Regions from separate parts of the Homo sapiens genome. Here regions 1, 2, 3 and 4 are each linked to region 5. Evidence: fine-mapped expression QTL. A gene starts in region 5. Each other region holds a variant in brackets. All regions are shown on one strand. Distances are from middle to middle.

What was found. PIP is the estimated chance that this variant, and not a neighbour inherited with it, causes the effect.
Region 1: its variant is the best candidate, but not a certain one, in a credible set for the expression of AP3S2 in adrenal gland (GTEx, PIP 0.53).
Region 2: its variant is the best candidate, but not a certain one, in a credible set for the expression of AP3S2 in whole blood (INTERVAL, PIP 0.89).
Region 3: its variant is the best candidate, but not a certain one, in a credible set for the expression of AP3S2 in damaged cartilage (Steinberg 2020, PIP 0.87).
Region 4: its variant is the best candidate, but not a certain one, in a credible set for the expression of AP3S2 in monocytes (Fairfax 2014, PIP 0.73).

Annotation. Positions count from the first base shown.
Region 1 is chr15:89,864,752-89,869,853 of GRCh38, reverse strand. All of the region lies in intron 8 of ARPIN-AP3S2 (ARPIN-AP3S2 readthrough), which reads left to right. The region is part of intron 4 of AP3S2 (adaptor related protein complex 3 subunit sigma 2); the gene reads left to right. Among named protein-coding and RNA genes, the nearest start is that of MIR5094, 17 kb to the right of the region's middle. The variant T/C (reference allele first, on the strand shown) is at 2,134.
Region 2 is chr15:89,826,457-89,831,558 of GRCh38, reverse strand. ARPIN-AP3S2 (ARPIN-AP3S2 readthrough) reads left to right here. Exons shown (of 10, transcript NM_001199058.2): 10 at 1-960. It overlaps AP3S2 (adaptor related protein complex 3 subunit sigma 2), which reads left to right. Exons shown (of 6, transcript NM_005829.5): 6 at 1-960. Among named protein-coding and RNA genes, the nearest start is that of ANPEP, 14 kb to the right of the region's middle. RefSeq lists an enhancer at 3,317-4,208. The variant G/A (reference allele first, on the strand shown) is at 2,326.
Region 3 is chr15:89,857,188-89,862,289 of GRCh38, reverse strand. All of the region lies in intron 8 of ARPIN-AP3S2 (ARPIN-AP3S2 readthrough), which reads left to right. All of the region lies in intron 4 of AP3S2 (adaptor related protein complex 3 subunit sigma 2), which reads left to right. Among named protein-coding and RNA genes, the nearest start is that of MIR5094, 9.0 kb to the right of the region's middle. The variant G/AAAAG (reference allele first, on the strand shown) is at 2,891.
Region 4 is chr15:89,843,104-89,848,205 of GRCh38, reverse strand. All of the region lies in intron 8 of ARPIN-AP3S2 (ARPIN-AP3S2 readthrough), which reads left to right. The region is part of intron 4 of AP3S2 (adaptor related protein complex 3 subunit sigma 2); the gene reads left to right. Among named protein-coding and RNA genes, the nearest start is that of MIR5094, 5.1 kb to the left of the region's middle. The variant C/G (reference allele first, on the strand shown) is at 1,975.
Region 5 is chr15:89,891,468-89,896,569 of GRCh38, reverse strand. AP3S2 (adaptor related protein complex 3 subunit sigma 2) reads left to right here and starts at 2,576. Exons shown (of 6, transcript NM_005829.5): 1 at 2,576-2,689. The coding sequence starts at 2,621. All of the region lies in intron 5 of ARPIN-AP3S2 (ARPIN-AP3S2 readthrough), which reads left to right. It overlaps ARPIN (actin related protein 2/3 complex inhibitor), which reads left to right. Exons shown (of 6, transcript NM_182616.4): 6 at 1-1,564. RefSeq lists enhancers at 1,294-2,041, 2,396-2,545, 3,538-4,287.

The DNA.
Region 1 (5,102 bases), 27 kb after region 5:
TGAACCCGGGAGGCGGAGGTTGCAGTGAGCCGAGGTCGCGCCACTGCTCTCCAGCCTGGGCAACAGAGCGAGACTGTGTCTCAAAAAAAAAAAAACAACCAAATTGTTAAATACAAGGTGTTACTTTCGAAGTTACCACCTAGTGTGCAAAGTGGGTTCTTTGAAGATGCCACCTGTTGCTCACCAGGCTGCAAATGAATTTCTTAACATCTCAGGTGTAGATTCAGGGATTCAAGGATAGATTTTACTAGGAAAGGGGGAGTTTTCTTTTTTTTTTTTTTTTTTTATTGATAATTCTTGGGTGTTTCTCACAGAGGGGGATTTGGCAGGGTCATGGGACAATAGTGGAGGGAAGGTCAGCAGATAAACAAGTGAACAAAGGTCTCTGGTTTTCCTAGGCAGAGGACCCTGCGGCCTTCCGCAGTGTTTGTGTCCCTGATTACTTGAGATTAGGGATTGGTGATGACTCTTAACGCGCATGCTGCCTTCAAGCATCTGTTTAACAAAGCACATCTTGCACCGCCCTTAATCCATTTAACCCTGAGTGGACACAGCACATGTTTCAGAGAGCACAGGGTTGGGGGTAAGGTCACAGATCAACAGGATCCCAAGGCAGAAGAATTTTTCTTAGTGCAGAACAAAATGAAAAGTCTCCCATGTCTACTTCTTTCTACACAGACACGGCAACCATCCGATTTCTCAATCTTTTCCCCACCTTTCCCGCCTTTCTGTTCCACAAAGCCGCCATTGTCATCCTGACCCGTTCTCAATGAGCTGTTGGGCACACCTCCCAGACGGGGTGGTGGCCGGGCAGAGGGGCTCCTCACTTCCCAGTAGGGGCGGCCAGGCAGAGGCGCCCCTCACCTCCCGGACGGGGCGGCTGGCCGGGCAGGGGGCTGACCCCCCCACCTCCCTCCCGGACGGGGCGGCTGGCCGGGCAGAGGGGCTCCTCACTTCCCAGTAGGGGCGGCCGGGCAGAGGCGCCCCTCACCTCCCGGACGGGGCAGCTGGCCGGGCAGGGGGCTGACCCCCCCACCTCCCTCCCGGACGGGGCGGCTGGCCGGGCAGAGGGGCTCCTCACTTCCCAGTAGGGGCGGCCGGGCAGAGGCGCCCCTCACCTCCCAGACGGGGCGGCTGGCCGGGCGGAGGGCTGACCCCCCCACCTCCCTCCCGGACCGGGCGGCTGGCCGGGCAGAGGGGCTCCTCACTTCCCAGTAGGGGCGGCCGGGCAGAGGCGCCCCTCACCTCCCAGACGGGGCGGCTGGCCGGGTGGAGGGCTGACCCCCCCACCTCCCTCCCGGACGGGGCGGCTGGCCGGGCGGGGGGCTGACCCCCCCACCTCCCTCCCGGACCGGGCGGCTGGCCGGGCAGAGGGGCTCCTCACTTCCCAGTAGGGGTGGCCGGGCAGAGGCGCCCCTCACCTCCCAGACGGGGCGGCTGGCCGGGCGGAGGGCTGACCCCCCCACCTCCCTCCCGGACAGGGCGGCTGGCCGGGCGGGGGGCTGACCCCTCCACCTCCCTCCCGGACGGGGCGGCTGGCCGGGCAGAGGGGCTCCTCACTTCCCAGTAGGGGCGGCCGGGCAGAGGCGCCCCTCACCTCCCAGACGGGGCGGCTGGCCGGGCGGAGGGCTGACCCCCCCACCTCCCTCCCGGACGGGGCAGCTGGCCAGGCGGGGGGCTGACCCCCCCACCTCCCTCCCGGACGGGGCGGCTGGCCGGGTGGGGGGGCTGACCCCCCCATCTCCCTCCCGGACGGGGTGGCTGGCCAGGCTGAGGGGCTCCTCACTTCCCAGTAGGGGCGGCCGGGCAGAGGCGCCCCTCACCTCCTGGACGGGGCGGCTGGCCGGGCGGGGGGCTGACCCCCCCACCTCCCTCCCGGATGGCACGGCTGGCCGGATGGGGCGGCTGGCCGGGTGGGGGGCTGACCCCCCCCACCTCCCTCCCGGACGGGGTGGCTGCCGGGCGGAGCCGCTCCTCACTTCCCAGATGGGGTGGCTGCCGGGCGGAGAGGCTCCTCACTTCTCAGACGGGGCAGCTGCCGGGCGGAGGGGCTCCTCACTTCTCATACGGGGTGGTTGCCAGGCAGAGGGTCTCCTCACTTCTCAGACAGGGCGGCCGGGCAGAGACGCTCCT[T/C]ACCTCCCAGACGGGGTCTCGGCCGGGCAGAGGCGCTCCTCACAACCCAGATGGGGCGGCGGGGCAGAGGCGCTCCCCACATCTCAGACGATGGGCGGCCGGGCAGAGACGCTCCTCACTTCCTAGATGTGATGGCGGCTGGGAAGAGGCGCTCCTCACTTCCTAGATGGGATGGCGGCCGGGCGCAGACGCTCCTCACTTTCCAGACTGGGCAGCCAGGCAGAGGGGCTCCTCACATCCCAGACGATGGGCGGCCAGGCAGAGACACTCCTCACTTCCCAGACCGGGTGGCGGCCGGGCAGAGGCTGCAATCTCGGCACTTTGGGAGGCCAAGGCAGGCGGCTGGGAGGTGTAGGTTGTAGTGAGCTGAGATCACGCCACTGCACTCCAGCCTGGGCACCATTGAGCACTGAGTGAACGAGACTCCGTCTGCAATCCCGGCACCTCGGGAGGCCAAGGCTGGCGGATCACTCGCGGTTAGGGGCTGGAGACCGGCCCGGCCAACACAGCGAAACCCCGTCTCCACCAAAACCAGTCAGGCGTGGCGGCGCGTGCCTGCAATCGCAGGCACTCGGCAGGCTGAGGCAGGAGAATCAGGCAGGGAGGTTGCAGTGAGCCGAGATGGCAGTAGTACAGTCCAGCTTCGGCTCCGCATGAGAGGGAGACCGTGGGGAGAGGGAGAGGGAGAGGGAGAGGGGGAGGGGGAGGGGTAGGGGGAGAGGGAGAGGGAGAGGGAGAGGGGAAAAGGGGGAGTTTTCAAAGCAAGAGAAGAGCCCATGGAGAGGTGTATTGAGGTGTCTCTGCTGGAATGACTCCCATCACCCACCTCCTCCAATGCTGTCTTTTTTATCAGGCACCTGTGAGAGTAGCTTTGCTAGTGGAGAGATAGGCAGAATGCTTAGACACCACGAAATCTGTATTTGTGTGCCAGCTGCTTATAGATGTTGTCTAGGGGCCGGGTGCGGTGGCTAACGCCTATAATCCCAGCACTTTGGGAGGCCTGAGGTCGGGAGTTCGAGACCAGCCTAACCAACATGGAGAAACCCCGTCTCTACTAAAAATGCAAAATTAGCTGGGCTTGGTGGTGCATGCCTATAATTCCAGCTACTCAGGAGGCTGAGACAGGAGAATCACTTGAACCCAGGAGGCAGAGGTTGCAGGGAGCCGAGATCATGCCATTGCACTTCAGCCTGGGCAACAAGAGCAAAACTCCATTTCAAAAAAAAAAAAAAAGGAAGTTGTCTGGGAATGCCAGCTGCCCAACACCTGGAAACTTAGGGACCTGTGGGATAATACACACCTGGAGAAGACAGCTGTAGGTGCTGTGGGAAGTTGTGCTTGGGTGCAGCCCCTCTCACTGGGAGAAGGGGTAGCCTCCCAACCCCCTAGTCTAAGCTAGTTCATTGTCTAGGCAACGTGGAGTATACCTCCATGGTGACTTTTTTTTTTTTTTTTTTTTGAGACGGAGTCTCGCTCTGTTGCCCAGGCTGGAGTGCAGTTGTGTGATCTCGGCTCACTGCAACCTCTGCTTCCCGTGTTCAAGTGATTCTCCTGTCTCAGCCTCCGGAGTAGCTGGGACTACAGGTGCCTGCCACCATGCCCGGCTAATTTTTGTATTTTTAGTAGAGACAGGGTTTCATCATATCTGTCAGGCTGGTCTCCAACTCCTGACCTCAGGTGATCCACCCACCTCAGTCTCCCAAAGTGCTGGAATTACAGGCGTGAGTGAGCCACCGCGCCCAGCCTCCAAGGTGACTTTGAAAGTCAACATTTGTTGTTTTGTGTTTTACCTTCTTTGCTCCGTGTTATTTGTAAGAATCACCCATTTTGTTACATGTGGCCTTAGGAAGTTTAATTTCATTGCTGCATAGGATTTCATTATATGAATTTATCCATTCTATGACTGATGGAATTAGATTGTTTTGAGTTTGGAGCTTTTATGAAATATGTTGTCATGAATATTCTTGAAAATGGATGCTATTGTACATTTTTGTACATTTTCTTGAAACATCTATTTCTCTTAACAGTGCAATTCCTGGGTCATAGGTGAGGCCTCTAGAAGGAAGAAACAGGCCTCTAGAAGGAAGCACAAAAGCACCAGCAGGGCTGCAGCACTGGCAAAAGAAGTCTGAGGCTCAAGGCCTCTGGACTGTAGACCATAGTATCTGCCACTTTGTTAGATAATGCCAGAGTGATTGTATCCATTTATACTTCTACCAATCGGGGGTGAGTGTTCCCAGTGCTCTGTATGCTCACCAAAGGTTTATATTCTCAGTGTGGTAATCATTAGAACTGTTAACTAAATATTTACAGTTCTTTCCCCTTCGAGAAACATGGTAAAATTATACTAATATGCCTTCCTGAAGTTAGGTGTAGCCATGTGACTTGCTTTAGCTAATGAAGTGTGAGTGGAAGTGCCATGTGTCACTTCTAGGCAAAACTTAGGAGCCAGTGCTAATATATATAATAATGGAATATATATATATATATTCCATTTGTGGAAGCATGGACACACAGCCTTCCAGGGCCTGGGTCCCTAACTGAGGATGAGGTAGAGCAGTGCTCCCCAGTGGACGCACAGTGGATGTGTGCATAGTATGAGAGAAATAAACTTGTTACTTTAAGCCATGAAATGTTAAAATTGTTACTGTGACTTAACCAAGCCTGTCCTGACTGATGGATATAGAACTTAATTTTTATCCAGCTAGTAGGTATGTACTGGCATTTCATTGTCATTCCAATTGCATTTCTTATGAAGATGAGCATCTTTTCTTGTTTATTGCCTATTAGGAGGTCCTCTCTAGTGAAATGTTTATTCAGGGCCTTTGTTCTTTCTTCTGTGAGGTTGTCTGCCTGTGATTTAAAAACGTATTTGTAAGGACCGGGCACAGTGGCTAATGCCTATAATCCCAGCACTTTGGGAGGCTGAGGCGAGTGGGTCAACTTAGGTCAGGAGTTTGAGAACAGCC
Region 2 (5,102 bases), 65 kb after region 5:
GCTGTCTGTCCATTGCTTTCCAAATAGGATGCAGCAATGATTGGTACATGGGTATTAAGATCGGTAGTAGGGGCTAGTCCAAGTTTAGCAATAGCCAAACTGGAGAGCCTCTGAAGTATGAGAGTCCCAGAGGGATTTGTCAGCTCCTGGCAGACATCCTGATTTTCACCTTCCTGAGTCTACCCTACCCCAGAGGGTGCCAGTCTCACTGTGGTGATGGTTAGCCCAGTGTGTGCTGCACTCACACACCAGCACGGGGTCCGTGCTTGCAGGCTGGTGGATGCTGTCCTCTGGGTTAAGACTGTCTCCCTTCTCGGGAGCACTGGAGGGTTCTCCATCTGCGTGTTTCAGTGGAAGTTGGCAGATACGAAAACAGGCCCCTATAGGGAAGCAGTTCCATGAAAATGATTAATTCTTTCCAAAAGACTTAAAATTTTTTCCTATTTCAATTTTCCTTTCAAAAAAGGAAATACATTCATGTAGTTCAAAACTTAAGAAAACAAAAGTCTGTTCAGCAAAAGACTCCCACTCCGGTTCCCCAAACGCTGAGCCCCACCCCCCATCCCTGGTAGCAAGAAGTGTTTCCAATTTTAAGGTTAAGAAACAAAGTCCCTGGATTTGTGTTAGGGATGTCTTCCTGAGAGTGGGTTGTGTTCCGTTTGACCCTGGCGGTTGACCTCGGCCCACTAGGATCATGCCGCCCTCTCCAGGGAGGAGGGCCTCCCCATCACCCTGTACAGTGGCACCCCAGCCCTGGCACTGCCCGCCCTTGCTCAGCGTACCTTTCCCATGGCACTCTGACGTACTGGATGTTTGGTTTCTGAAGTTACTGGCTGTTTACCCTGCCGGGATGTAAGCCCCTCCAGGGCAGGGGCTTGTCTCGTGTTCAGTGCTGCATCCCAGCTGCTGGGCACGGTACCTGGTCCATGGCGTTCAATAAATAACTGTTGGATGAGTGAACGGTTGAGGCAAATGGCAGTTCATTCTAACAGTCTCAGCATGTGCTCTCCAGGTCCCTGTGCTCAGCACTTGGGAAGGAGAACCAGAATAGTGGTATTGGAAGCAGGAAGTGGGAAGGACCCGATGATGGCTCGTGGAGGCTGAGGGAGAGGAGAATGGCAGAGCTGGTGTTGGCAGGTGGAGCCCGTGTAACGAGGAGGCGCAAGGATGGGGCTCTCGAGAGAGGGAGGGGGTTTGGGAGGGTGGCAATCAGGAGTTTGGATGTGGAACGCATTCGGTTGGGGTTGTCCAAGCATCTCTGGGGGCAGATGTCCACCAGCCAGCTGGGAAACTGAGTGGGCAGGAGAGGAAATGAGTCTCCACCCAGAGATGATGATTGGAGGTGTGGGGGTGAGCGCTGTGGCCGAGGGACAAGAGGGTTGAGGACTGAGCCTGTGGGCAGGGGAGAGAGGAGCATCTGGACAGCGGGCGACTTCAAGTCAAGGAAGCACTTTCAGTGGGGAGGGGGACCAGGAAGAGACGGCCTCTCTCAGGCTTCCATTGGCCCCAGCCCAGCCCCCCGAGTGAGAACTGTGAAGAGATGGCTCTAGCCTCATGGTGGGGCAGGTCCAAACTTAGTGTGGGTCACAGTCCAGCTCTGCAATGTGCAGTCTGAACCTTCGGAAGATTCAGTTTGCTCATCTGAAAAAGAGGGTAATGATTCCTGCCTTGTAGGTTACTGTGTGGATTCAGTGAATCACTGATGCGGACGATGAAGGACTCACTCAGTCAACATTGGCTACTCTTATCACTGAGACTTGCAGAGGGAATGGGAGTTGAGGAGGTGGATGGAATAAGTTCGATGATGCTGGGAAGGAGAAAGAGCTCAGGTCCTGGCAGAAGGGGAAGAGGAAATGAGGGCAGCAGAAACCAAAGTGGGCCTTAAAGGAGGGCACTGCACGGGGATGGTGATGCACACTGGCCCTGGCCTGGCCTGTCAGTGGGGTCCCACACCCGTATCCAGAGGCACAGCTAGATAAAATGGTTGAGGAGGTGGTGGGGTCTGCAGAAAGTGAATCTTAAGATGGGGAGCGTCTGAAGACATAGAAGAGCAACTAGCAACTGGCAGGACCCACGGTATGGGGGTCAGAGGGGAGAGGAGCCTGGAACTTCCTTTCCCTGGAGTCAGGAGGGACATCTGGCAGTCCCAGCAAGCACGGCGGGAGCTCGAATCTGGGGACCAGTGAGAGGGCCTCTGACCTCGCAGGCCTGGATGAGAGTTGGGGCCCCTGCAGGGACTCCACGCTTCCCATGAGAAGTGGGATCTTTGAGCCTTCTCAAGAGCAAACCTTACATTTTAGTACAGCTCTGACAGCCTGGCCTCCC[G/A]GGAGCACTTGGAAACAGGGGTGTCCCCTCCCCCAGCCTCCAAGGACCAGGCTGCAATTTCAGGAGAGACAAGCTGGAGGTTGCCTTCTGCATTGCTGAGAATGAACGCCCTTTGCACACTGTGAAAGAAAGGCTAAGCTAAAATTGATAGACAGGAGTTCCAGGTAGTTTTCACAAATGAGTCCCCTGGTTCCGCAGAATGAGGTGATGCTCAAAATATTTACCAACCAGCATGGCTCAGGCATTGACCAATCAGGATGGAGGTAGCTGATTTAGGGGTTGGGGGTTACTGGTGTCACATGTGGGCTCTGCCGCCAGGATCCCTTCCTCTTCCTTCCGCCGGGATCCCTTCCTCTTCCTTCCAAGGCAACATTCCTTCCGAGGCAACAGCCACATCTCAGGGCTGCTGCAGTCTGCTCCTTTGCTTGCCTGGGAGAGTCAGAGATGAGGCCTGTGGGTTGTGTGTGTGGCTGCATGGGTCAGCGTGCCTCCTCCCACTTGGGCACTGTGGTGGGAGGGACAAGTCATCTCATACTTCATCTCTCTGGACACTCCCAGGCTAGCACTGAAACTGGAGGCCAAAGGACAGCCCCAAACCCAGGGCACTTTGTGCTGCCAAAGATCACCACCTTTGCCCTAGGCAACCTGGAACTGAAGGTTTTCTCCGGCCTCTTGGTCCGGGGCACTTGACATGAATGCCCTTTCCCTGACCCCTGTCCAGCCCTGAGTGGCTCCCCAGCTGGGTGTGGGCTGGCTAGAGGGAGCTGCGGACCGAAGCCAGCAGCACCGAGGCAAGCCAGGATTTAAACTGTCAACTGCCGAGCCAGCTCTACTGGAACTTCCTTTGTGTGGCTGGACCTGCTCCCACAACACCCGTCAGTTCACGTAGAGGGAGCTCCCGCAGGACTCAGCTCCTTCGGGGTGTTTTTTGCTGAGATTCCCCTTCTGAGTTCCCGGCCTCTAGCTGCCTCTTCTCCACCATTTGGGCCCTGCCTCAGCCCTAGAAACTGTCAAGCAGCCCAGTAGCTGTTTAAAGTACATAATGATATTACAGGGTTGGAAGGAAATCCTTGGGTCCAGACCCTGTGTCAACCAGGTGAGGGTTACGGTGACACTACCTGGCCTTGCAGCCTGAGCCTGGTACAGGTTGACACCCTGAAGCAAGTCCTCCTTGTCAGGTCCCGCCCAAGCCTTCTTGTCAGCCCAACTGGCTCAGCCCCAGCCCAGCTCTGCCCAACTGCCCTGGGCTCCCCTGCCCTGGAGAGGCCAAAGGCCACCCTTTCTCTGGGTGTCACAGCTCCCCTTTGCTCTGGGCCCACAGTCCCCGGCATCCCCAGCCCCTGTCTTCTCATCCCTGACACGAGTTTCCCTCCCTGAGAACTCACTGCCCCCCAGCACCAGATCCTGCACGATAGTCAGTGGTCCTGGAGCCCACATGTCACCACTGCATCCTCCACCCCAGTGTCCCTGCCCGGACACCACCACAACCCCTCAGGCCCCTCAGCAGTGTCTCTGCCTCCCCCTCTGTCTCCTTGTGGCTCATGTCATCGCTCCACCGCAGAGTGAACCACCTCATGCATTCATCAGACCCCCACTGCCCTGCAGCCTTTAAAGCCTCCCAAAAGCTTCCCACCAGCCTCAAAGAAACCCAAGGCCCTGCTTAGCTGCCCCCACCCACCCCACATCCTCATCTTGCACCCCTGCCTGGCTCCCTCCTTCCAGCCACACTGGCCTTTATGCTTCTCAAACCTGCCGGGCTCATTCCCACGCAGGGCCTTTGTCTTGCCATCCCCTCTGCCTCTGTCTTCAGGTCCCCCTTGCTCCTCACTTCTCTCAGCCTTCACCTGCAGAGGACTTCCCGGTCCCACCTGGCTGAAGCAGCCACTTCTCCCCTCACTCCCCATCCCTCACCCCACTTTGTCCTCTGTGGCGCTTGTCACCCGATATGACAGTGTGTGCCATGTCGACTCTCTTTTTCACTGTTGTTTTGCTGCTGCCTTGCTGGTGCCTGGGACAGTGCCTGACCCATATTCAGCTGTCAGTAAGTACGAGATTGCTCAACAAATCAATGAATGCATTCAACTCCTTCCATTTCCCTCTCAACATGCGTGAAGCTCCACGCTCTACTCAGCCTTGAGGGCAGGAGGCACTGTGTGGTGGGGGCACAGGCCCAGCTTCCTGTCTCACTGTGTGACCCTGAGCCAGTCCCTTATCTGCCCACTTCCAGGTGGTCAGAATGGTGTGTGAGAGGGCATTTTACTATGATACATAGTCCTAAAGCCCTGAAGGAGACGTGAACTTGGTTTGATCCTGCCTCTGCCACTTCCAACTGTGTGACCTTGGGCAACACACCTAACCTCTCTCTGTTGTGTTTCCTCAGCTGGGAAATGGGAACACAGCGGCTCCCTTGCACCAGTCAGGATTCCCAGTGCAAAGAGAACCAACCCAGAAAGGCACTCGCTGAAGGGCTGTGGGGAAGCTCTCACAGGCTCAAAGGGAAGGCGGAAAGCCTAGACTGAAACTAGCCAGGCTGCAGACAAAACCAAAAGTCCACCTGGCATGGTGGCTCACACCTGTAATCCCAGCACTTTGGGAGGCCAAGGTGGGCAGATCACGAGGTCAGGAGTTCAAGACCAGCCTAACCAACATGGTGAAACCCCGTCTCTACTAAAAATACAAAAAAAAAAAAAAAATTAGCCGGGCGTGGTGGCACATGCCTGTAATCCCAGCTACTTGGGAGGCTGAGGCAGGAGAATCGCTTGAACCTGGGAGGTGGA
Region 3 (5,102 bases), 34 kb after region 5:
CAATTGTCCCAGAAATGTCCTTTAGATCTTTTTTTAAATCTCAGTTTCAGTTATGAGTCAAACATTGTCTTTAGTTGTCATGTCTCTTGATTGTTTCTGGCAGGTTTTCTAACCTTATTCTCTCTTCCTTCTTGTTGATCCCACATACTGAAATTAGTTTTTCTAATGTACTTCTTAGACTAGCCTTGACTCCTTGGCCGGACACATTCAAGGCTCTCCACAATTTGTGCCCATCCTATCCTGGCTTTACTTCCGTAACTACTGGCCAGACACTTTCTGCTCTAGCCACAGTGGACCACTCCTACTTATTTTGTAGTTCCTGCCTCAACTCTCTGCCTGAATTGTCTTTTCATGTACTAAATACTGCCTGTCATTCAAGTGCTGCTCAAATCCTACCACCCTAAAGCTTGCCCTCATGGTCTAGCCTATTGTGATCTCTTTGAACCAGGTATAGTATTATTTTTATCCTTCTGTGACCTTAATTTATGTACCTTTCTATGTTTTCCCTGCTTGGTTAGACTGCCTTATCTTTGTATTCCTCACTGAATCTAGTGTGGTACCTTTTACTGACTGGGGTAATCTTCAGGTGACTGTCACTAAAGAGTTCCCAGGACTCTAGTCTCATAAGGTTGCTCATGATTTAAACTGTTGGAGGCTGGAGTAAGGTCTGATTTCATAGTCTCTGGGGTAACCATCAGCTCTCCTGGCTGTGCCATTTAGAGCCTAGGGTACTTGGTTCCCTTTTGCTTTCAGAAATCCCTAAACACAGCTCAACATTATGACTGAGCTGGGTGTTGGTGTTAATTATGGTGAATTGAATTTTGTTCAAAGAAAACTGTGTGGGTGACCTAACATTCTGATCTACCAGTATCTAATAGCAAAGCTGGATTTAGAATTCAATTGGGCTTTCAAGATTTGGTCATCAGAGTCACAATTCAATGGCTATGTCAAGGGAATTTATCCAGCGCTTTATTTTTTTTTAAATAGATTTCAATTTGCAGTGGGCCCTCTCAAGAGAATTGAAACATATGCTTCTGAATGGTGCTGAACCCAAGAAAACCTCATAGTATGGAATTTTAAATCTCTGCTAAGCATAGGCTGCTAAAATGGAAAAATGCTGAGAGTTCAAAATTAACTCGTGAGCACTAAGATGAAAGGATCATAAACAGTAATATTGGGTTTTGTTTGCCAGATGTCCCTTCTGTGAACAGAGCTTGTGATAACAAAGCTCATTAATACCTGCCACACCCTGTGACGTTGAAGCAGATGTCCTGACTGCAGGTCTCCAGGAATGGAGGGACAAGTGAGGGACAGACAGTTTGTGTTTTTGATGATGAAAGAGGAGCTATTTGGTCTGGAAGAATAAGGTATTCTGTTTGAGTTTTAGTTCTTGTAAAAGGTGCGAGTTAACATACCTGACTATCCCTGGCTGCCTCTGTTTCTCTATCTGGATGTGCCTAAGAGAAGAAGAGAGCTGAGACCAGCCTTGTGTTCCATTGCATCTATAAAGCCCTTCTTTACTGATGCTTGATAGGTAAGAATTTTGTGGCAGAATTTTTTTTTTTGGCTTAAGTAATAAGGAAATTTATTATCTTACATACAGAAAGGCCAGTTGTAGGGCAGAGTTAAAGCGTGGTTAAGACAGACAGTTTTATCTGCAGTTTCACTTTCTGTAGTTCCAGTTATGCACAGTCAACCATGGTCCAAAAATATTAAATGGAAAATTCTAGAAATAAACAATACGTTTTAAATTGCATGCCATTCTGAGCAGCATGATGAAATGTTGCTCTGTCCTGCTCCAGGATGGGAATCATCCCCTCATCCATTGTATCCGTGCTGTGTACACTAGCTGCCCACTGCTTACTTAGTAGCCATCTTGACTGTCACAGTGTCACGGTGCTTGTGTTCAGGTAACCTTTATTTTACTTCATAATGGCCCCAAAGTGCAAGAGTAATGATGCTGGCATATTGTCATAATTGTTTTTATTATTAGTTATCGTTGTTAATCTCTTACTGTGCCTAATTTACAAATTAGACTTTATCCTAGGTATGTGTGTATAGGAAAAAATAACGCATCCACTGGGGGTCTTAGGACATATTCTAGGCAGGTAAGGGGGGACTACTGTACTTTCTGTATGTTATCTTCAATTCTTAGTGTTGGCTGTAGAATATTTTTTTCAGAGGCCAAAATCTTATTCCCTCAGGGTAACATAAAGACAGAGATCGGCTGGTCATGATGGCTCATGCCTGTAATCCCAGCACTTTGGGAGGGCCAAGGCGGACAGATCACGAGGTCAGGAGATCGAGACCAACCTGGCTAACACGGTGAAACCCTGTCTCTACTAAAAAATACAAAAAATTAGCTGGGCATGGTGGCAGGTGCCTGTAGTCCTAGCTACTCTGGAGGCTGAGGCAGGAGAATGGCATGAACCCTGGAGGCGGAGCTTGCAGTGAGCCGAGATCGCGCCACTGCACTCCAGCCTGGGTGACAGAGCGAGACTCCATCTCAGAAAAAAAAAAAAAAAAAGATCAGCAATAATGATTTCTTAAATTTCTAAAATCCCTGTAATTTGTTTAGAAAAAAAAAGAAAGAAGGGCTGGGCGCGGTGGCTCGAGCCTGTAATCTTAGCACTTTGGGAGGTCAAGGCGGGTGGCTCACCTGAGGTCAGGAGTTCGAGACCAGCCTGGCCAACGTGGTGAAACTCCGTCTCTACTAAAAATACAAAAATTACCCAGGCGTGGTGGCGTGCACCTTTAATCCCAGCTACACGGGAGACGTGAGGCAGGAGAATTGCTTGAACCTGGGAAGTGTAGGTTGCAGTGAGCCGAGGTCGCGCCACTGCACACCAGCCTGGGCGACAGAGCAGGACTCCATCTCAAAAAAAAAAAA[G/AAAAG]AAAGAAAGAAAAGGAAGGAAGGAAGGAAGGAAGGAAAGGAAGGAAAGAAGGAAGGAAGGAAAGGAAGGAAAAAGGAAGGAAGGAAAGGAAGGAAGGAAGAAAAAGAAAAGAAAAAAGGAAAGAAAGAAAAGAAAAAAAGGAAGGAAGGAGGGAAAAAGAAAGAAAGAAGGAAAGAAAGAAAGAGAAAGGAAGCAAGGAGAGAGGGAAGGAAGGAAGAAAGGAAGGAAGGAAGGACACTTGGGCTGGTTGTGGAGGCTCACGACGATAATCCCCAGCACTTTGGGAGGCTGAGGCGAGAGGATCACTTGAGCCCAGGAGTTTGAGAACAGCCTGAGCAATAAGTGAGACCCCATCTCTTTAAGTAAAAAAGAAAAAAAAAAAGAAAAAAACAAAAGCAAGGATTGTTCCAGACTATACTGAATATCTGCTGCCATATACACACTCGCTTTCCTTACTTGAACTTTGGATTGCCTCAGTGCACAATCTCATTGATTACCTGCTGCTTCAAGTTTGGTGTGTTAGTCATTCCTTATTACTGGTTAGTAGAATAACAGTGTACACAAAACAGCACAATTTGACCTTTAGAGATATTCATTTGATATGCAGCCGTTTTCAGTAAAACCTAGTGTTTGTCAAGGTTGTAGTCAGTAAACAAAGCTTATTACCCATGGTATTACTTGGATATGTTGCAGATAAAACGAATTGTATTTTGCTTTGGTTGCTGATTTATAGGCACCCTGAAAGGCTGGAATTGAGATTCAATTTTATTGTTCTTGCTATTATTCCTTATATTGCAGAAGAGGATTAGCCTACTCTAAGATAAGAAGTAGAGTTTCTCTTTCTTTCTTTCTTTCTTTCTTTCTTTCTTTCTTTCTCTCTCTCTCTCTCTCTCTCTCTCTCTCTCTTTCTTTCTTTCTTTCTTTCTTTCTTTCTTTCTTTCTTTTTCTTTCTTTTTTTGAGATGGAGTTTCGCTCTTGTTGCCCAGGTTGGAGTGCAATGACGTGATCTCGGCTCACTGCAACCTCCACCTCCTGGGTTCAAGCAATTCTCCTGCATCAGCCTCCTGCCTAGCTGGGATTATAGGCGTGCGCCACCACACCCGGCTAGTTTTGTATTTTTTTTTAGTAGAGACGGAGTTTCTCTATGTTGATCAGGCTGGTCTCAAACTCCCAACCTCAGGTGATCCGCCTGTCTCAGCCTCCCAAAGTGCTGGGATTGCAGGTGTGAGCCACCACACCCAGCAAAGCAGAATCTCTTGATTCCTAACTAAGAACCCTTTTCCAGGCTTGATTTTTGTATCAATCAAGGTAGGCTAGGTAATGCATTACTCCAAAATCCCAATGGCTTATGAGAGCAAGGTTTATTTTTTCACTCGTGCTATGTGGCCATTGTGGTGTGTCTGCTGACTGTAGTTCCTCTGAGGTCCAGGCTGATGGAAATCTCCTCAACATATGCTTCTACCTGGGCATGTGTGTGTTCCGGCTCTTGAAGTGACACATCCTCGTACACTCACATTTCAGTGATCAAAATCAGTCACATGCTCCCACCCAAGGGATGGGGAAATGATCCTATTATGTGCCCAAGAGGGAGGAGAACCTGAACTAGTTGAATATTACCAATGATGACCATGGTTTTTTCATGGATTTTCTTAGAGGAAAAGTTAATGTTTGATTTTTATTATCACTTTGTAGAAGGGAAGCTAGAAATTTTAGTAACAGAAAAATAGAGGAGTGCTCTAATAAGAAGAAAACATGGTTGAATCTTAGGAAAGGTATCCCACATGGCAGCTTTTCAGTTTCTCTGATTATTGGGCATTTATATCTTCTATACTTCCCAAATGAATTTAAGATGACTTAAAATAAAATTTCTTAACAGAATAAATGGTTTTTATATGTGGGAGGCGAGTGCCTCCCTCCTTAGAGGCTTTCTGCAAATCATTTGTCTTTACCTTGGCTCTCTGACCTTGATGAAGTACTGATGTCTGAGAGTGTTTTTGTCTTTTCTCTGATTACCAAACAACAATCATTTATTAAGCATTCATTAGGAAAAAGACACTGCGCTAAATATAGAGATACAAAGATATAAAACTCAAATTTTCTACCTGTAAGAAGCTCATAAACTAGGCACGGTGGCTCACACCTGTAATCCCAGCACTTTGGGAGGCCGAGGTGGATGGATCACTTGAGGTCAGGAGTTCAAGACCAGCCTGAC
Region 4 (5,102 bases), 48 kb after region 5:
TGTATAACACAGTTATTTTGAGAAAGACTCCACAGTAGGAATGTGAGCCTCTGTCTTTTGTAGCACAACAGGCATTTGCCCTACAGTGCAAGGGACCTGGAGAGGGATTGATCTAGATTAGAGGTTTCTATGGATTCGATTAAGCTTGGGATGTGGCATGCATTAACATGCTGCTAGTGTCTCAAAAGATTTTACTTATCCTCTCTGCCTGTGAAATTTTCGGTTAGATGGAATCCTGCCATCCCAATACAGAACTGCATTTTATTATAGAAACAGTATTGTTCATATTAGGTGTAGTGGCAGGGGTGCTCTCTGGTACCACATTTTGGGTAGCTTTATGGATTTAAGTCTGCTTTCATGAGCTGCTAGCCTTGAAAATCTTACTTATTACCTTTATAGAAAAATGCATTGTAAATTTAAATACTTAAACATTTGGAACATGACCAATTTAAGGTTTGGAGACTGTGTTTTTACTAGAGTAAAAGGTAATTTAAATACCTTGCTTATGCCTTCTTGTTTATTATCTTCAGGTACCAGATCAGTCTGTTTTTAAGTGATCTCTGTTGACATGGGATTAGATTCAGAACTTTCTTTGATTTCAGTGAGAAACAACCAGGGATGGAACCCTTGAAGAGCATGGAATCCTCTGTCCTTCCGGAGGGTTGTTGCAACTGACTTGTCCCCACCCCTAGTAGTTCTAGAGCTAGGTTCCTGAGGCACATCTGTATCCTTGAAGAAACACTTTTATTTTTCTTCTTAGATTCAATTCTGATATGAAACTAGCAGACTCATTTTAATCTACTTTTTTTTTTTTTTTTTTTTTTTTTTTTGTAACAGGGTCTCGCCCTGTCTCCCAGGCTGGAGTGCAGTGGTGCAATCACTGAAGTCTTGACTTCCAGGCTCAAGTGATCCTCTTACCTCAGCCTACCGAGTAGCTGGAACTACAGGCTTGTGCCACTATGCCCAGCTAGTTTTTAAACTTTTTTTTTTTAGAGAGACAGAGGTCTCACTATGTTGCCCAGGCTGGTCTTGAACTCCTGGGCTCAAGCAATCCTCCTTCCTAGGCCTCCCAAAATGCTGGGAATACAGGCATGAGCTGCTATGCCTGGTCTTAATCTACTTTTGTCTGCAGAGGTTAACTTTGTGTTGCAGACAGTAAGTAGGTCCAGTTATAGAAGCAAGTACCTTCAAGGGATGGAGGATGAGGTGATAGCATCCTAGAAAAGAAAAAATGAGGCCAGGCGAGGTGGCTCACACCTGTAATCCCAGCACTTTGGGAGGCTGAGGTGGGCGGATCACCTGAGATCAGGAGTTTGAGACCAGCCTGGCCAACATGGTGAGACCCCATTTCTACCAAAAAATACAAAAATTAGCCAGGTGTGCTGGGCGCAGTTGCTCATACCTGTAATCCCAGCACTTTGGGAGGCCGAGGCAGGCGGATCACAAGGTCAGGAGATCGAGACCATCCTGGCTAACACAGTGAAACCCTGTCTCTACTAAAAATACAAAAAATTAGCTGGGTGTGGTGGCACACGCCTGTAGTCCCAGCTACTCGGGAGGCTGAGGCAGGAGAATTGCTTGAACCCGGGAGGCGGATGTTGCAGTGAGCCGAGATCGCACCACTGCACTCCAGCCTGGGCCACAGAGCGAGACTCCGTCTCAAAAAAAAAAGAAAAAAAATTAGCCGGGTGTGGTGGCATGTGGCCTGTAGTCCCAGCTACTGGGGAGGTTAAGGCTGTAGGATCGCTTGAATCTGGGAGGTGGAGGTTGCAATGAGCCGAGATCATGCCACTGTATTCCATCCTGGGCGACAGAGTGAGACCATGTCTCAAGAAAAAAAAAAAATAAAGAGACACAGATGTCCAGAGGTGTTGGGGGAGAGTGGAGAGACTCGATAACAGGTTAGATTGTCTTTAGAGGAATTGACATTTTGACTACAGTACTCATTCCTACTCTTGACTATTTTCAGGGGTT[C/G]CAAGAGAAAAATTTAAATAGGACAGAGCTAAAAACACCGACTTTCACTCACTAAAATGTTGTCATAAATTTATGTATCTTGATCTTGGAAAACATCAGTATCTATGCCTCATTTTACCTTTTAAGATTTCAGATTTATCACCCGAAGCATTTTCTCTATTGCCTTCCCCTTATATCAAGATATCCTGTTGGTTTATTGGGGTTATCCTAATCTTTATGTCAGATGAAACTCATCCTGGTTGTAATTATTTTTAGGTTGAATTACCATTGGATTTGCCAAGTACTGAAAAATCAGTAGCACTTTTGTTTAAACTCTGTTAATAAACACTTCTGAGTGAATTTTGCTAGTGTCATTATTTCCCATGCTTGCTGAGTAGAAGGTTGAATTATTATTACTTCATAATTCATATTTGTTCAATGCACACTGTGTGAAGCTGAGTTTAGGCCTCTCGAAGACTTAGCCTCTTTCTTTCTGTTCCTGTGGTTTTGAATACCATTTACATGACTCACGTCTCAGATTTTCTTTCCCTACCAGCCTCCCTGTGTTGGTTTGTGACTTTATCTGTCAGTGTTCTCTCAGGTATTTACTTAGATTTCTGCAGGCATCCTCAAGGTCAGCGCATCAGCCAACTTCTGTTGTTTAACAGAACCCTTCTTTGTGCCCTGACTCTATCTCCAGTTCTTTAGGTACATGAGTTCAGTGTTGATTCTTGACTGCTTGCTCCCACACCCATGCTTGGCAGCCTCCAACTTTCTTAAGTCCCATCTATCTCCAATCAGAGAAATGTTAGCCATCTTTCATGGTCAACTTCATATTCAGTGGACAAGGTCTGAACTGACTAGCAGGACTAACACGGGCAGCTGTTCGCTCATCCATTGCTCACTTACACTTGAGTCATTTTGCTTACCAAAGGTCAGTTGTGATGTTTCCAGATCTCTTTATGCCAGTAAACTGGTACTGTAATTATGTAATTTGATTAAATAATATACAGATTAAATTATGAGGGAGAAAAGAAAATTATTCTGGCTGTGCATGGTGGCTCACGCCTGTAATCCTAGGACTTTGGGAGGCCGGGGTAGGCAGATTGCCTGAGCTCAGGAGTTCAAGACCAGCCTGGGCAACATGGTAAAACCTCGTCTCTACTAAAAATACAAAAAATAAGCTGGGCGTGGTGGCGGGCGCCTGTAGTCCCAGCTACTCAGGAGGCTGAGGCAAGAGAATCGCTTGAGCCTGGGAGACAGAGGCTGCAGTGAGCCGAGATCGTGCCACTGCACTCCAGCTGGGCAACAGAGTGAGACTGTTTCCAAAAAAAAAAAGAAAAGAAAATTACTCTGTGAAAAGTAAGAGGAATGCTTTGGAAGGACAAGTACTTTAAAAAGGAAATGAAGCTGAATTAGGTTTGGGCAAGATAACTATGGAAGAGTAGAGGTGGAAGGATCTTAAAAATCTAGGATTCTGTACTTACTGTTTCACAGCAGTTTGAGTTCTAACTTTAAGAAACTGGAAATTGTAGATGATGCATTCTGGGTGAGTTTTTTGCAATAATGGCAAAAAACTCTAATCAGCAGAAGAGATCCTTCTAGGTTGGGCACATTGGCTCACACCTGTAATCCCAATGCTTTGGAAGGCTGAGGCGGGAGGATCCCTTGAGCTCAGGAGTTCAAGACCAGCCTGAGCAATATAGCAAGACCTCATCTCTACTTAGAAATTAAAAAAAAAAAGAAAAAAAGCTGGGCATGGTGGCACATGCCTATAGGCCCAGCTACTCATGAGACTGAGGCAGGAGGATTGCTGGAGCCCAGGAGTTCAAGGCTGCAGTGAGCTATTATCATGGCACTGCACTCCAGCCTGGGTGACAGAGCAAGACCCTGTCTCTAAAAAAAGAAAGAAAGAAAGAAGGAAGGAAGGAAAGAAGGAAGGAAGGAAAGAAAAAAGTAAAGAAAGAAAGAGAGAGAGAGAGAAAGAAAGAAAGAAAGAAAGAAAGAAAGAAAGAAAGAAAGAAAGAAAGAAAGAAAGAAAGAGAAAGAAAGAAAGAGGGTTTTTTGGCCCTAGCCAAAAGTTCAGTGGCTCTCAAAGTTTTGTTGTTTATAACAATGATGGTAGGCTTGAACATTCACGGGAAAAGTCACAGTAAAAGTCAGATTAACCATATCTTTATTACTTTAGTTTTAAATGCTATCCATGGACTCTCAGTTACTGAGGGTGAGGAAATCAGTGTTCGTATTCTACCTCCCTCCTTTTTCCCCTCTTCTCTTCCTAGTTTTTGCTAGCTGGAGTTTTATACATCATCAAAGCATATAGTATTGACGATCTGTTGTTACCCTAATCCTATTTTAGTCTTAGACCTACAGTTAAGTAGTTTTCAGTGCTCACCGTAAGTTTTTGCCGTAGTTTTTTTGTTTTTGTTTTTGTTTTTGTTTCTGAGACGGAGTTTCACTCTTGTTGCCCAGGCTGGAGTGCAGTGGCACGATCTTGGCTCACTGTAACCTCCTCCTCCTGGGTTCAGGCGATTCTCCTGCCCCAGCCTCCCAAGTAGCTAGAATTACAGGCACATGCCACTTCTGCCCAGCTAACTTTTGTTTGTTTGTTTTTTTCTGAGATAGAGTCTCGCTCCATCACCCAGGCTGGAGTACAATGGTGCGATCTCAGCTCACTGCAGCCTCCACCTCCCGGGTTCAAGCAATTCTGCCTCAGCCTCCTGAGTAGCTGGGATTACAGGTGCATGCCACCACACCTGGCTAATTTTTGTATTTTTAGTAGAGACGGGGTTTCACCATGTTGGCCAGGCTGGTCTTGAACTCCTGACCTCAAATGATCCACCCACCTTGGCCTCCCAAAGTGCTGGGATTACAGGCATGAGCCACCAGGCCTGGCCCTGCCATAGTTTTTCCAGTCACCTGTTAGTTGGCACAAGTGCTTCCTTTTGTAGATTCCTTAAGAAATACTTGGCTGGGTGTAGTGGCTCATGCTTGTAATCCCAGCACTTTGGGAGGCCAAGGCGGACGGATCACCTGAGTTTGGGAGTTTGAGACCAGCCTGACCAACATGGAGAAACCCCATCTCTACGAAAAATACAAAATTAGTCAGGCGTGGTGGCACATGCCTGTAATCCCAGCTACTCAGGAGG
Region 5 (5,102 bases):
TTTATTGCTTCTAAGCTAATACAGATTTTTGGATCTTATTCAATTTCGCTTTCTTCTGTTTAGGTTATTATCTGGTTTTATACCTAACTACTTATTTTCAAATTGCTAACCAGTTATCCTAATAGTATTTACTGAATTCCTTCCCACTCCTACATCACATATTAAAATTATTTTATGCCTAAATTATTTATAATATTTCAGTTATTCTTCCTATAATTACAATTTGAACCATCAAAGTAGGTTTTCATAGTTGGCAGAGCTAGTTCTTCTTCATAATTCTGTTTCAGAATTTTCTTTGATATTCTTCCTCAACATTTTAAACATTTTGTCAAGTTTCAGTGCAACTGACTTTTGGTTTTTATTTATTTAAAAACTGGGCCATGCCGGGCGCAGTGGCTCACGCCTGTAATCCCAGCACTTCGGGAGACTGAGATGGGTGAATCACTTGAGGTCAGGAGTTTGAGACCAGACTGGCCAATGTGGTGAAACCCCATCTCTACTAAAAATACAAAAATTTGCTGGGCATGGTGGCATGTGCCTGTAATCCCAGCTACTGGGGAGGCTGAAGCAGGAGAATTGTTTGAACCCGGGAGACGGAGGTTGCAGTGAGCCAAGATTGTGCCACTGCACTCCAGCCTGGGCAACAGAGTGAGACTCCATCTCAAACAAACAAACAAACAAACAAACAAAAAACTGGACTAGGCGTGGTGGCGGTTTGGGAGACTGAGGCTGGAGGATTGCCTGAGGCCAGCAGTTTGAGGTTACAGTGAGGTATGACTGTGCCACTGCACTCCAACCTGGGTAAGACCCTATCTCTGAAAAACAAACAAGCAAACCCCAGAACTCTGGCTGCAAAAGTAGTACATATTTCTTTGAAGGAAAAAAAGGAAAACTTGATAATCCTACCACCCAAAGATGTTTTTAAATCACTTATGTGGTACTCAGTTATGTGCCATGCACTGTCCAAGTGCTTACAAATATTATACTAACTCCCTTTGTGTTTATAACAACTGTCTGAAGTCAGTAGACTCATTTTCCAGTTTTCCAGTTTAGGAAACTGATATTACACCTTTTCTACAGATGGGGAAACTTGCCCAGGGTGCCCAGGCAGTCCGCAGAACCATGCTTTGAATCAGGGCAGTGTGGTTCCAGGGTCCTGTACAGATCAAACACCCTGACTCTGCCATTCCATCAGATACATGATTCATATTTTGGTGTATTTGCCTCCAATCTTGAGCAAAGTGGGTTGTCCCTGTACATACTTTGTGTAATCTTTTAGCTTAACAGGTGTCATGAACACTTCCGTATCATAAATCTTTCCCAGCATGATTTTTATTATCTATTTAATATTTCTCATATTCAATGTAGAACAATGCACTTAACCAATTTCTCATTTTTGTAATAATTTTCTTCCCATTTTCCCCTGTAATAACACTGCTGAGATATATATTTTTTTCTTCTTTTTTTTACTGTTCTGAAGATACTCTGGCAGAAATGTATGTTCCTCAGGCTAAATCTTTTCACACATCCACAATCATTTTATCATAAATTCTAGAGCTGGAAACGCTGAGTCTAATGTTTTATATATATATATATATATGTTATATATCTGTCACCCAGGCTGGAGTGCAGTGTGGTGTGATCTCAGCTCACTGCAACCTCCGCCTCCCGGGTTCAAGCCATTCTCCTGCCTCAGTCTCCCAAGTATCTGGGACTACAGGCGCGCGCCACCACAACCGGCTAATTTTTGTAATTTTAGTAGAGGCGGGGTTTCACCTTGTTGGCCAGGCTGGTCTCGAACTGCTGACCTCAAGTGAGCCGCCCGCCTCGGCCTCCCAAAGTGCTGGGATTACAGGCGTGAGCCACCGCGCCCGGACTGTTATATATTTTAAAGGCTTCTGATCCATATCGCCAAACAGTCCTCTGGATCGATTTGCATCTGTATCCGCTGCTCCATCTGCAGTATACGGACATGCTCCACTTCACCCACACTGGGTCATTAAAAGAACAAACAAAAATAAGAACTTGATCGATTTGGGATTTTAAATGGAAATGCACTAAAAATTCCTTAATTCCACCATTCACCGTCTACCATAGAGGAACAGCCCATCTGCACGGAGAGACAGCTACGTAATTCACTGCAGCATTATAATACTGAAAAATTAAAATGAACGAAATGTTCCATAACCGACGAACGGCCGAATGACCGGCGTCTCCACTCCGCGGAACGTTCTGCGAGCGCTAAGGGGATGGCGGGAGTGCATGATTTGGAGCGGGCGGTGAGAAAAGCAAGCTCCCGCCGCCTCTCCGTTTTGGCAACCCGGCTGACGGTCGTTTCGGCTTCTGGGGCCAGCCGTCGGTCTGGGCGAGGGACATAGATCCGGATTCGCATCCTGACTGGCCAACCAACGCTGGCCGAGGTGACCACTCTCCTCGGCATCCGCACCTGCCCTCCAAGGCGTCAGAGAGGCCGGACCCTTGGGTGCTAGGGCTCGTGAGCGCCGGGGCCAAGTTTCCGAGTGCCGCTCTCAGCAGCGCACCAACCGGAAGTGATCGTGTTGTGGCGGAAGGAGGAGCTTTCTGGGAGTAGCCGGTGCTGAGAGAACCGTGGCTGGCAAAGATGATTCAGGCGATTCTGGTTTTCAACAACCATGGGAAGCCACGGCTAGTCCGCTTCTACCAGCGTTTCGTGAGTGCGGCCCGGCTTCACCACGCCCCTTCAGGGCGCCCACTATGTCTTCCCTCCTCTTTGGCCTCTCGGCGCCCGGGGGCACCGCTCTTTGGTCACCTGGGGCTCCTGCACCGAGCATGACCCTCGCCCTACTTAAGCATTTAATCTAGGCGCAGGCTGGTGCCAGGCCTTCTGTCTCCCGCCCTACTGCCCCGCTCTCGCTGACCCTTTTCTTGATCCTGGCATTTCTGTGCCATTTTGTGACATTTTCCCGTGGGTCTCTGGGAACGAGATAGAAGCGACAGTGGGGAGTGTGCCTCGATGAGAACTTGAGTGATTGAAGTCACATTCTGTCATCTTTTTGGTTGTTGACCACAGTTTCATGAGGAAGAAATATTAAGTTTCTGAAAGTTTTTGTTATAGCCAGAACTGGAAAAGTTCTTTTTTTTTTGGAATTATTTTGCTTCAGTGTTGGCTGGGACTTTCCAGAGACTAGATACCCTTCACTCTTAGGGTTGAAGAAAATCAGTTTAAAAGTGGAAAAATGATGAGAAATTATAAATGCTGCCGCATAAGGGCTCAATAAGTGATTACGTAAATTTGAATTTTCCCAACACGTTCCTTTGCAAACACATAAACATCAGTATTTGCTTCCTGTCTTCGAAGATTATATTTCTTCATGGCAGGGTTTCAAAATGTTACATAATTGGGGGACTGGTGGAACTGAAGAGGGGAAAGAGCCAGAAAACGTGTTCAGGCTTCAGCTCCACCTTTTCTACTCTTGCGTCTGTTGACAAGTTAATAAACCCTTTTCAGACTTTTATTGTCTTTTGTCAATTAGAAATGAAAAAATAATTTTACTCCTTCATAAGATTTTTAAAGCTAGATTACATTTTATTAAGTAGATTACATCGAGGTAAAAATATGAGTATTCAGGCCGGGCGCGGTGGCTCACGCCTGTAATCCCAGCACTTTGGGAGGCCGAGGCGGGCGGATCACGAGGTCAGGAGATGGAGACCATCCTGGCTAACACGGTGAAACCCCGTCTCTACTAAAAATACAAAAAATTAGCCAAGCGCGGTGGCGGGCACCTCCAAGTCCCAGCTACTCAGGAGGCTGAGGCAGGAGAATGGCGTGAGCCCGGGAGGCGGAGCTTGCAGTGAGCCAAGATAGCGCCACTGCACTCCAGCCTGGGCGAAAGAGCGAGACTCCATCACACACACACACAAAAAAGTATATATATATATGTATGTATATGAGTATTCAGCGTAACTATTTGTATTTGCATTTGTGTGTATGCAAATTTCCCCCCTAGTTTTTTTCTAACAGGGTTACTGAGATAAAACTAACATGCCATACTGTTTACTTATTTATTTTATGTTATTTACTTATAGAGACGGGGTCTTTCTATGTTGCCCAGGCTGGTCTTGAACTCCTGGGCTCAAGCAATCCACCGGACTCAGCCTCCCAAAGTGCTGGGATTACAGGCATGAGCCACTGTGTCCGGCCCCAGTTTACTTATTTAAAGGGGACAATTCAGTGTTTTTTAGCATGTTCACAGAAGCTGTGTAACCATCACCACAATCAATTTTAGATCATTTTCATCACCCCAAAAAGAAACCTCTGCCCATTAGCAGTCACTCCCTATTTCTCCATGACTCTCCCAGCCCCAGAGAGTTTCTTTCCCTCTAAATTTGCCAGTTCCAGAATGGCAAATGGAATTTGCCTATTCCGTTGCCTATAAATGGAATCATAAATAAGTGGTTTTTTGTGTGTCTGCCATGTTTCATGTAGTATAATGTTTTCAAGATTCATCCATGTTGTAGCATGTATCTGATGTTCTTCATTTCTTTTATTGCTGAATAATATTCCATTATATGGATATGCCATATTTTGATTGTCAATTTATAAGTTGATATTTCTGCTTTTTGGCTCTTCTAATTAATGCTGCTATGAACATTCTTGTGCAAGTTTTTATGTGGACTTATGACTTCATTTCTCTTGGTTATATACCTAGGAGTAGAATTGCTGGATCATATGGTAACTGTGGTGAACATTTTGAGAAACTGCAAACTATTTGACAAATTTTCCAAGTGGCTGCACCATTTTACATTTCCATCAGCAATGTATAATGATTCCAGTTTCTTCACATCCCTGCCATTCGTTATTTATTTATTTATTTTTGGTTAAAGACATTTTAGTGGGTGTAAAGTGGTATCTCACTGTGGCTTTTTTTTTTCCCTCCGAGACTGAATCTCACTCTATCTCCCAGGCTGCAGTGGCGTGATCTCGGTTCACTGTAACCTCTGCCTCCCGGGTTCAAGTGATTCTCCTGCCTCAGTCTCCTGAGTAGCTAGGATTACAGGTGCCCACGACCATGCCTGGCTAATTTTTGTATTTTTAGTAGAGATGGGGTTTCGCTGTGTTGGCC